Regions from separate parts of the Homo sapiens genome. Here region 2 is linked to region 1. The links come from fine-mapping of genetic effects on gene expression. A gene starts in region 1. The other region holds a variant in brackets. All regions are shown on one strand. Distances are between the middles of the regions.

The links.
Region 2: its variant is fine-mapped to the expression of RYR1 in whole blood (INTERVAL, PIP above 0.99).

What each region holds. Positions count from the first base shown.
Region 1 is chr19:38,431,625-38,437,002 of GRCh38, reverse strand. It overlaps RYR1 (ryanodine receptor 1), which reads right to left and starts at 3,312. Exons shown (of 106, transcript NM_000540.3): 1 at 3,129-3,312. The coding sequence starts at 3,173. RefSeq lists an enhancer at 1,983-2,558 and a silencer at 3,290-3,429.
Region 2 is chr19:38,545,685-38,551,062 of GRCh38, reverse strand. RYR1 (ryanodine receptor 1) reads right to left here. Exons shown (of 106, transcript NM_000540.3): 88 at 4,537-4,618; 89 at 2,643-2,830. Among named protein-coding and RNA genes, the nearest start is that of MAP4K1-AS1, 48 kb to the left of the region's middle. The variant T/A (reference allele first, on the strand shown) is at 3,212.

The DNA.
Region 1 (5,378 bases):
CTGCTGGCCCAGTCCCCTACCACCATCAAGAGCCTGATTTGGGGTCAGCAGGGAATACGTACTGTTTACCAGACCCCAGGAGCTTCTAACTTGGGCCAGGGTTTGAGAAACCCCAGCCTGGGTAAGGGTAGAGGTCACCACCCACCAAAGGGAAGTGAAATCAGTTTGGGGGGGCTGTGGCCATCATACTTAACCAAACGAAGCAAAATGGAGCAAGAATAGAAAATCACAGCGTGCCCATCATGCTTCAGGGGCCATCTACATTTTATGAGACTTGTTTCAGTTAAAAATAGGTACAAGTGAATGGTCACAGGCCCTGTGTTGTCTATAATAGTAAAAATTGGAGACGACTCAAATGTCCATCAGCAGGTGAACTGATAAACACACCACAGTATAGTCGCACAATGGAATAATATTCGGCAACAAAAAGCAACAAACTCAATACATGCTACATGGATGAATGTCAAAAATATTATGCTGAGTGAAAGAAGAAAGGCCGGGCATGGTGGCTTATGCCTGTAATCCCAAAACTTTGGGAGGCCAAGGCCGGAGGATTTCTTGAGCCCAGGAGTTTGACACCAGCCTGGGCAATATAGTGAGACCTCACCTCTACAAAAAATTTTACAAATTAGCCAAGCATGGTGCTATGCACGTGTAGTCCCAGCTACTCAGGAGGCTGAGGTGGGAGGATCACTGGAGCCTGGGAAGTGGAGGTTGCGTTGAACCAACCACCAAACTGCTGTACTCCAGCCTGGGCAACAGATTGAGACTCTGTCTCAAAAAGAAAAAAAAAGGCCGGGCGTGGTGGCTCACACCTGTAATCCCAGCACCTTGGGAGGCCAAGATGGGTGGATCATCTGAGGTCAGGAGTTCAAGACCAGCCTGGCCAACATGGTGAAACCCCATCTCTACTAAAAATACAAAAAATTAGCTCGGCTTGGTGGCACGCGCCTGTAATCCCAGCTACTCAGGAGGCTGAGGCAGAAGAATCGCTTGAACCCAGGAGGCAGAGGTTGCAGTGAGCTGCGATCACGCCATTGCACTCCAGTCTGGGCAACAAGAGTGAAACTCCATCTCAAAAAAATAAATAAATAAACAAAAACAAAACAACTCATTGAACACATAAACTGGGTAAAATTTATTGCAGGTCAATTATACCTCAATAAAGTTGGTTTTTAGTCATGTCTATGCATGTGTGCATGTACTGAGTTGTAAGACAGAATGTTTCTTATGGGCGGGATGTGGTCCAGAAGGTTTTTTGTTCTGAGATGGAGTCTCGCCCTGTCGCCCAGGCTGGAGTGTGCAGTGGCGCAATCTCGGCTCACTGCAACCTCTGCCTCCCAGGTTCAAGCAATCCTCCCACTTCAGCCTCCCGAGTAGCTAAGATTACAGGCATGCACCACCACGCCTGGCTAATATTTTTTTGTATTTTTAGTAGAGACGGGGTTTCACCATGTTGGCCAGGCTGGTCTCAAACTCCTGACCTCAAGTGATCCGCTCACCTTGGCCTCCCAAAGTGCTGAGATTACAGGCATGAGCCACTGAGCCCAGCCTCCAGAAAGTTTTGAGAAATCCACCACGACCTCAGTAACAATCAGAAAAACTGACCCAGTCTGGGGTGGAGAGATTCCAGGGCCAAGCCTCCAGAACCCTAACGCTGACTACTTTGGCAAGTCTGGGCCCAGATTTTCTCTGGTGAAGGCAATGGGGCTGGGCACCAGGGGCATCCAGAGATGCCACTTCCTGGCCTTGACCTTGGGTGAGTGATTCTACCATTCGGGCCTTGGTTTCCCTCAAATCTGTCAGGGAGATAAAGATAGGACCCTACCTCAGAAGACAGGGCAGCAAGGATATAATTAGATGTCTCAGGAGGCAGAGGCCCAGGGCACAGGGCCTGGTTTAGAGCGACAGCTCAAGAGCCAGTGGCCATGGCCATGGTCTTATTAGGGCTGGGGAGGGCCCGACCCATGGTGTCTGCTGAGGGGCTGGGGCTGGGGAGAGAGTCTCGGCTGAAGCTAGGCCCCTTCCCAGCTGTCCCCATCCTTCACTACCAGCCCCAGCTGTTTGTTCCTCTCTCCCAGGAAACCGGACCCGGCTCGCCAGGGTCCTATTCTGGGGCAGGAATGCTGTGTCAGCATTTCCTGTGTGGCTCCAGGGCCCCGGGGGGAGGGGCGGGGCTAGCGTCTGGTCAGCAGACCTAGCCCAGAGGAGAGGACGTCCCCTCCCATATTTACGACCCCACACCCTGCGGAGCCACTGGGAGGGGAAGATGGGAAGGACAAGGAGATGGCAGCCCCTCCTCCCTCTCATCCCCTCCCCATCCCCTGCCCAGGCCCCAGAAAAGCCGGCTATTCTGGGAGGGACACCTGTTGTTCCAATTCCCATCCCTGCCCCCAGCTGGGGCTCAGATGCAGGGAGTAACCCAGCTAGAGAGACAGCGAAAATCAGAGGGCCTTAAGCTAAGAAACAGAGACAGGGAGACTGAGATGGAGGAAGAGACAGAGACATGGAGACACCCAAAGAGACAGATGGGGAGAGACACCACCCAGAGACCCTGCAAGACCATTAGCAGCCATTGGGAGCAGCCCTCCTGCCCAAAACGAAGAAGGAAAGAAAGACCCAGAACCCAAGAGATCCCTCCCCCACAAGACCCTCAAGGGCTAGGAGTTGGAAGCAGCTGTGTCCTCCAGCTCACTCCAGCTCCCTTCTCAAGAATTTAAATAGGTCAGAGTCTGGAGCAAAAAGAGAATTAGGGCTAAGGTGGGGGTGGGGGGATGGCTAAATCAAGCCCAGGAATTAGAACCACCTTCCCCAAGTGCCTGCTTCCAAGATGGTGTGAGGGTGTGCTCCCTCGGGGGTCCTTCTTGTGGGGGACAAATCGCTAAAGTCAGAAGAGAGGGCAACCGAAGATCCCTTTCCCATTCTGGAGTCCCCAATCCTACTAATTCTCTGTAGTGAGAAAGGTGAAGGAGACTAAAAGACAGAGTGACAGTCACTCAAAGTGACATAGGAAGAGACCTCGAGTCTCAGAGACCACCAGCAAGCCGGACAGGGACATTCAGAGACAGAGAGACCCTCAGAGAGCCCCAAGAGATAGCCCCACAGGCCCCTAACCCAGAGATACGCACCGTCCGCAGGAACTGGACCTCGTCTTCGCCTTCTGCGTCACCCATGATGTCGAGGTCGGAAGCCCAGGGTCTGAGGTCGGGGAACAGAGGGAGGGGGCTGCGGGCTGGGCGGGAGGGCTGGGGGCGGGCTGGGGTCGGAGACCTCTGGAGACACCAGAGGCACCCGCGAGGTAGATGGAACTGCGAGGAGTACACGCATGCTGGACAGAGATGGGAGGAAGTCCCCGCCCCCGGGCCCCATTGGACCAGGACTCCCCGGCCACTCCCCTTCGCCGGAGCCCTGCCCACATACCCCAAATCTTGGCTGGAGGTTTGCTTGGCCGTTGGCCGCCGGAGGTGGGGTGGGAGAGAGAGTATCTAGGAGGTACCTGCGCTTTCTCCCCACCACGGTAAGTAACGTGCCATCATTCTCCCATTTCACAGAGGGCAGACTGAGGCTCTGAGTGGGGAAGTTCTTGCAAGATATCACGCAGCAGAGCAGGGATGTGCACCAGATCTCCTGACTTTAAAAAGCACCAAACATAGTGATTAAGAACAAGGACTCCGGCCGGGAGTGGTGGCTCACCCCTGTAATCTCAGCACTTTGGGACGCCGAGGTGGGTGGATCACTTGAGGTCAGGAGTTCGAGGCCAGCCTGGCCAACATGGTGAAACCCCCGTCTCTACTAAAAGTACAAAAATTAGCCAGGCGTGGTGACACATGCTTGTAATCCCAGCCACTTGGGAAACTGAGGCAGGAGAATTGCTTGAACTCCTTGAATTCGGGAGGCAGAAGCTGCAGTGAGCCGAGATTGAGCCACTGCACTCCAGCCTGGGCGAGACTTCGTCTGAAAAAAAAAAAAAAAAGAACAAGGACTCCGACTCCAAGCCAGATAATCTGGATCTGAATCCCACCCAGCCTTGCCACTTCCTTGAGTTACATGGATAAGCCACTTAGCTTCTCTGTGCCTCGGTTTCCCCATCCAGTAAGGGGAATATTAATAGTACCGACCTCACGTGGTTGTTGGGAGAGTTAAATGAGATAATTAATTAAATGAGATAAAACTTAAAACAGTGCCAGTGCCTGGTTAATGTAATGTAAGTGTTGCTATTATTATTATTTATTTATTTATTTATTTATTTTGAGACGGACTCTTGCTCTTGTTGCCCAGACTGGAGTGCAGTGGCAAGATCTTGACTCACTGCAACCTCCACCTCCCAGGTTCAAACGATTCTCCTCCTCAGCCTCCTGAGTAGCTGGGATTACAGGCACCTGCCAACACACCCGGCTAATTTTTGTATTTTTGGTAGAGACGGGGTTTCACCATGTTGGCCAGGCTGGTCTCGAACTCCTGACCTCATGATTCGCCCACCTCAGCCTCCCAAAGTGCTGGGATTACAGGTGTAAACCACCACGTCCAGCCCTATTAAAATTATTACTAGGCCAGACACAGTGGCTCATGCCTGTAATCCCAGCACGTTGGGAGGCCAAGGCAGACAGATCACTTGAAGCCAGGAATTTGAGACCAGCTTGGTCAACATGGTGAAACTCTGACTCTACTAAAAACACAGAAATTAGCTGGGCATGGTGTCACACGACTCTAATCCCAGCTACTTGGGAGGCTGAGGAACAAGAATCATTTAAGCCCAGGAGGCAGAGGTTGTAGTGAGCCGAGATTGTACCACTACACTCCAGCCCAGGTGACAGAGCAAGGCTCCACCTCAAAAAAAAAAAAAAAAATTTTTTTTATTAACATGTAGTGGTATACAGTAAGTTATATAAAACAATATCCCATAGTTAAACAAAATTACATAGAAACCGTTCTTCAAGGTATAGCAGGTTTCTAGGTGTTCCATAATTAAATACTGATGTTAACACAACTGCAATAAATAGCACAAAAGTTTGTGTCATATTATGGAATTATATAATTTGGCATTATATAATGTATAATTATATAATTATATATTTAGGCTAATATAATTATACAGTACAATACAATTCTATGTTGTATCTGTTATACATTATCCAACGCATAGTTGTATATTAAATATTGTTTTTCCCTAAAACTTTATGTAAATGTAAAATGATTCTGTGTCATTGAGCATTATATCATAAGATATTAATAGTGTTTCTTATTTTTGTCAGTCATCATTATGTGTTTTAAGACCTACCCTTGTTGCTCTGTGGACACCTGGTGTGTGACAGTGGTGGCTTTGCAGGATTCTCTGGTGACTGATCCCTTCTGTTTTTCCACCTACCCCTACTGGGAGC
Region 2 (5,378 bases), 110 kb before region 1:
AAAAAAAAAAAAAAAAAAAAAAAAAAAAAAAAAAAAAGCCGTGAATCCACACTGATATAAATGAATGGATGAATGAGAAAATGAAATGAAATGGACAAGAAGGAAACACTCTTTCTTACAGTAAAATGGTGCCTAGTGATGGTAAAGCATACGGCGAAATGAGAAAACCACCATTTGTCAGCTACTAGAGGAATAATTGTTTCAGGCAAGAATCATCAATGGATGATGACCCCAGAGTTAGCAGAATATTTACATAGCCTCAAAGTATATCCTCATGAGACACTTATTGATTCCAAAGGGAATAACAGTAACTTCATTGTGGAGCCCCTGGTGAACACCGAGTTAACCAAGCCATCCAAGTTAACAACAGTAATGGGAAGAGACATTGGCCAGGTGCAGTGACTCACACCTGTAATCCCAGCACTTTGGGTGGCTGAGGCAGGAGGATCGCCTGAGCCCAGGGGGTCAAGGATGCAGTGAGCTAGGATTGTTTGACTGCACTCCAGCCGGGGCAATAGAGCAAGACTCTGACTCTAAAAACAAATAAATAAGAAAATAAACAGTAATGGGATGAAACCACATGTGCCTCCTAATACATTACACTGAGGACACATCACTTCTCTGATATTCCTGCAAAAGATGCATAACCCTAGTCTGATAATGATGAAAACTCAGACAAACCCACACTGAACGACATTTTACAAAACAGTTTGCCTGCGTTCTTCAAACATGTCAGGAAAGATAAAGACAGACCCAGGCACAGTTCCAGACTGAAGGAGGAAAACAGACAGAACACCTAAATACAATCCCTGGTTCTGGGTTGGCAAAGAAAAGACATTGACGAAAGAAATTTATTCAACAAGGGAAACTGAATAAGGTCTAGGATTAGATAGCAGCATTGTGCCAATGTTAATTTCCTGATTAGCATAATTGTCCTGTGCTTAGGTAGGAGAATGAATTTGTTCTCAGGAGATACACGCTGAAGTGTTTCAAAGTAAAGGGAAATTGGCTAGGCGAGGTGGTTCATGCTTGTAATCCCAGCACTTTGGGAGGCCGAGGCAGGCAGATCACTTGAGGCCAGGAGTTCAAGACCAGCCTGGCCAACATGGTGAAATCCCATCTCTACTAAAAATACAACACACACACACACACACACACACACACACACACACACACACACACACACAAATTTAGCTGGGCATGGTGGTGCGTGCCTGTAATCCCAGCTACTCAGGAGGCTGAGGCAGGAGAATCGCTTGAACCCAGGAGGCGGAGGTTGCACTGAGCTGAGATTGCACCACTGCACTCCAGCCTGGGCAACAAGAGCAAAACTCCGTCTCAAAAAAAAAAAAAAAAAAAAAAAAGGAAAGGAAAGGGAAATCATGATGGAGTAAATAGTAAATAGAAAACATTTGGGCAATGTGGGTGAAAGGTATTCAGAAATTCTATGTGCTGTTCTTGCAACGTCTCTATAAACCTGAAGTTATTTCAAAATAAAAAGTTAACAAAATGGTAACATTAAAGATCAGGGAGTAGTAATAGCAGCTAACATCTCTTGAGGACTCACCATATTCCAGGTACTGCCCGCACTGCCCATCCTCACAATAGTTAATAGTTGTTTTATTTTTATTTTTATAGATACAGGGTTTCACTAGGTTGCCCAGGCTGATCTCGAACTCTTGGGCTCAAGCGATCCTCCCACCTCGGCCTCCCAAATTGCTGGGATTATAGGCATGAACCACCGCACACTGCCAATAGTTAGTGGTTAATGTGATTATCCTATCCCCATTTTACAGAGTAGGAAACTGAGGCTCAGAAGAAAAGATGGAGAGTTAGGATGGGAGAGGTGGTTAGAGGAGGAGGAGTGGGTTTCTGAATAAGGATGTTCCAGCACTTCCCTCCTAGCAGGCTCATTATTTAGACTTGGAATGGTCTAGTTAGTGACTGCCTCCCCCATTAGACTATAAACCCATGAAAGCACGGGCTGTGTCTATCTTGGTCATTGATGCGTCAATAGTGTCACTACAGGCCCTACACAGAGAAGAAAGCCAGCCAATGTTTATTGATGGAATAACTGATGCCTATTCACAATAATGATAATGTTATGACTATCAATAAAGATAACAGTAATAACGGTTCTCATCTGTGTTAATGCATTTCATCCTCAAAATAACCCAAGGGGGCTGAGCGAGGTGGCTCATGCCTATAATCCCAGCACTTTGGGAGGCCAAGGTAGGAGAATTGTTGGAGCCCAAGAGTTCAAGAGGAGCCTGGGTAATGTAGTGAGACCACATCTCTACAAAAAATAAACTTAAAAATTAGCCAGGCATGATGTCACACACCCGTCGTCCCAACTACTCAGGAGGCTGAGGTGGGAGGATTGCTTAAGCCAGGAGGTCAAGGCTGCAGTGAGCTATGATCACGCCACTGCACTCCAGCCTGGGCAACAGAGAAAGACCTTGTCTCTAAAATGAAATAAAACAGAATACATATAACCCAAGGACTGTTTTATCCTCATTTTACAAACAAGGAAAGTGAGGCTTGCAGAGATGTCTCTTGCCTGAGGCAGCCAGCCAGAAGGGTATGGCTGGCCCTTGGCAACCCCACCCAAGTCCTGGGCCCACACGATGTCCCACACCCACCTTCTGGAAGTCCTTCTTGGAGATGAGGCCACGGGGATCCGTTACGTAGTCCTGGAAGGCTTCAGAGCCCACAATGTCCTTGAGTTTCAGGAACATGTCGAAGAACTTGAGGATCATCTCCACATTGGATGAGGATTCCACGAGCATGTCCACCATCTGCCGGGCGATCATGCCGTTCACCACGTTCCCTGCAGGCAGCCCCAGGTCAGTGTGGCCGGTGAACACTCCCTTCTGGGGCCCCACCAGGCTTGCCTCTCTTTCCAGCCCAGGAGCCACCACGCTGCTGGAGTGTCCCTGGCCAGCCACAGCCTCCCCTCCACAGGTCCCTTCCTGACCTGCGTCAGCCTCCTGTGCCAACCTGGCTGATCCTGCCTTTGCCCACCTCCCCCAGTAAAGCTAATGATGTCAGGTCGGACGTGGTGGCTCACGCCTGTAATCCCAGCACTTTGGGAGACCGAGGTGGGTGGATCACTTGAGGCCAGGAGTTTGAGACCAGCCTGGCCAACATGGTGAAACCCCGTCTCTATTAAAAATACAAAATCAGCTGGGCGTGGTGGCATGTGCTTGTA[T/A]TTCCAGCTACTTGGGAGGCTGAGGCACGAGAATTGCTTGAACCTGGGAGGCGGAGGTTGCAGAGCCGAGATCGTGCCACTGCACTCCAGCCTGGGTGATGGAGTGAGACTCTGTCTCAAAAAAAAAAAAAAAGATAATGATGATGTACGCTAAAGGTAGGTGCCAAATGCTACCCTGGCACAATCACACAAAAAGGGAAGTGTGTGACTCTACTTTTAGGAAGAGAAACTGAGACATAGAGAAAGTCATGCACTCAAAGTTACATAGCCAGTAAAGTGGGGAGAATGGATTTGAACTCAGAGCTGCATGACCTCAGGGCTTACACAACTAAAACTTCCACCAGTACACACAGTCAGGAGGGTCCACAGAAGACTGAGGCTAGCCAGTGGTAAGCAGCAAGGAGAGGTAGAGATTGGCAAACTGCGATCCCACACTCCCTCTAAAGGCAGCAGCTGAAGCTTGGCTCCAGTTTATTTTTGTAATTTTTAAATTTTAATGTAGGCTGGGCGCAGTGGCTCAAGTCTGTAATCCCAGCACTTTGGGAGGCTGAGGCGGGAGGATCACGAAGTCAGGAGATCCAGACCATCCTGACCAACATGGTGAAACCCCGTCTCTACTAAAAATACAAAAAAAAAAAAAAAAAAATTAGCCAGGTGTGGTGGCGGGCGCCTGTAGTCCCAGCTACCGGGGAGGCCAAGCAGGAGAATGGCGTGAACCTGGGAGGCGGAGCTTGCAGTGAGCCGAGATCGCGCCACCGCACCTCCAGCCTGAGCGGCAGAGCGAGACTCCGTCTCAGAAAAGAAAAAAAAAAAAAAGGGATCCTAATATATCCACATTCATCAATTGTTTATCTTTTGCCACATTTGGACATTTGGTTTGTTTTTGGGGTTTGTTTTTTTGAGACAGGGTCTTGCTCTGTCACCCAGGCTGGAGTGCAGTGGTGTGATCACAGCTCACTGCAGCCTGGACCTCCCGGGCTCTGGTGATCCTCCCACCTCAGCCTCCCGAGTAGCTGGGTCTACAGGCACACACCACCACACTAGGCTAATTTTTGTATTTTTAGTAGAGACAGGGTCTCACCATGTTGCCCAGGCTGGTCTCAAACTCCTGACTTCAGGTGATCTTCCCACCTCGGCCTCCCAAAGTGCTGGGATTACAGGTGTAGCCACCGCATCTGGCCTATTATGGCTTCTTCATCAACCCATGGATCCTGACACGATGTCAGATGGGGTTGAGGATTAGGGTCTCCCGGGTCTCAGGGGGCCATTCTCAGGCTTCTCTGAACCTCTTTACTGTTCCCTCACCCTCACTCCTGGGTGTTTACCTTCTAGTAGCGACAGCAACATCACCACCATGTCCTTCTGCAGATCCAGCAGCTCCTTCAGCAGCTCGATCTGGCTTGAGTCCTAGAGATCCCAGCTCGGTGAGGGCTGGTCTCAGCATACACCTCCCCCACCTCTGTTGCTTCTCCCCCTCCTCACCTACCCAGCAGGGCCTAAACCCGTTTTCTCCCCTCTTACCTCCGAGGGGACCCGAGTCCAGACATGTTCCTCGGAAGCAGGGGAAGGGGCAGAGAGACAAGATTGTGGGGGTGGGGTTGGCACTTGGGGGACGGGCTCGATAGGTGATGGGTAGTGGGAAGGCTGGCAGACAAGGAGGACTGAGAGGCTTGCGGGGCAGACATTTGGGGCAGAGAGAGACAGAGACAGACAGAGACAAACACTGGGGACAGAGACCCAGGTCTAGGAAGGGATGTGAGCCCAGCACTGTGCCTGGCCTACGGTGGGATTGACAGATGTATGTTGAATATAATGTGTGATGGCAAGAGTGGGACTCTGGGTTCAGGAGGAAGGCTGCAGAGACAGCCATGTGCTTTCTGGTAAGCCGTCTGCGGGGAACATAGGGCCACAGTGTAGGGCCCATAGAAACCTCCAATACAAAGTTTTGCCTCATGGCCCCTATTTATGTTAGGTTGAGTCACATAAAATTGCCAACATGTGATCACTTTTGGCTCACAAAGTGGTAATTTCTTTCTTTTTGAGACAGAGTTTTGCTCTTGTTGCCCAGGCCGGAATGTAATGGCGCAATCTCGGCTCACTGCAACTTCTGCCTCCCAGGTTCAAGCAATTCCCCTGCCTAAGCCTCTCGAGTAGCTGGATTACAGGC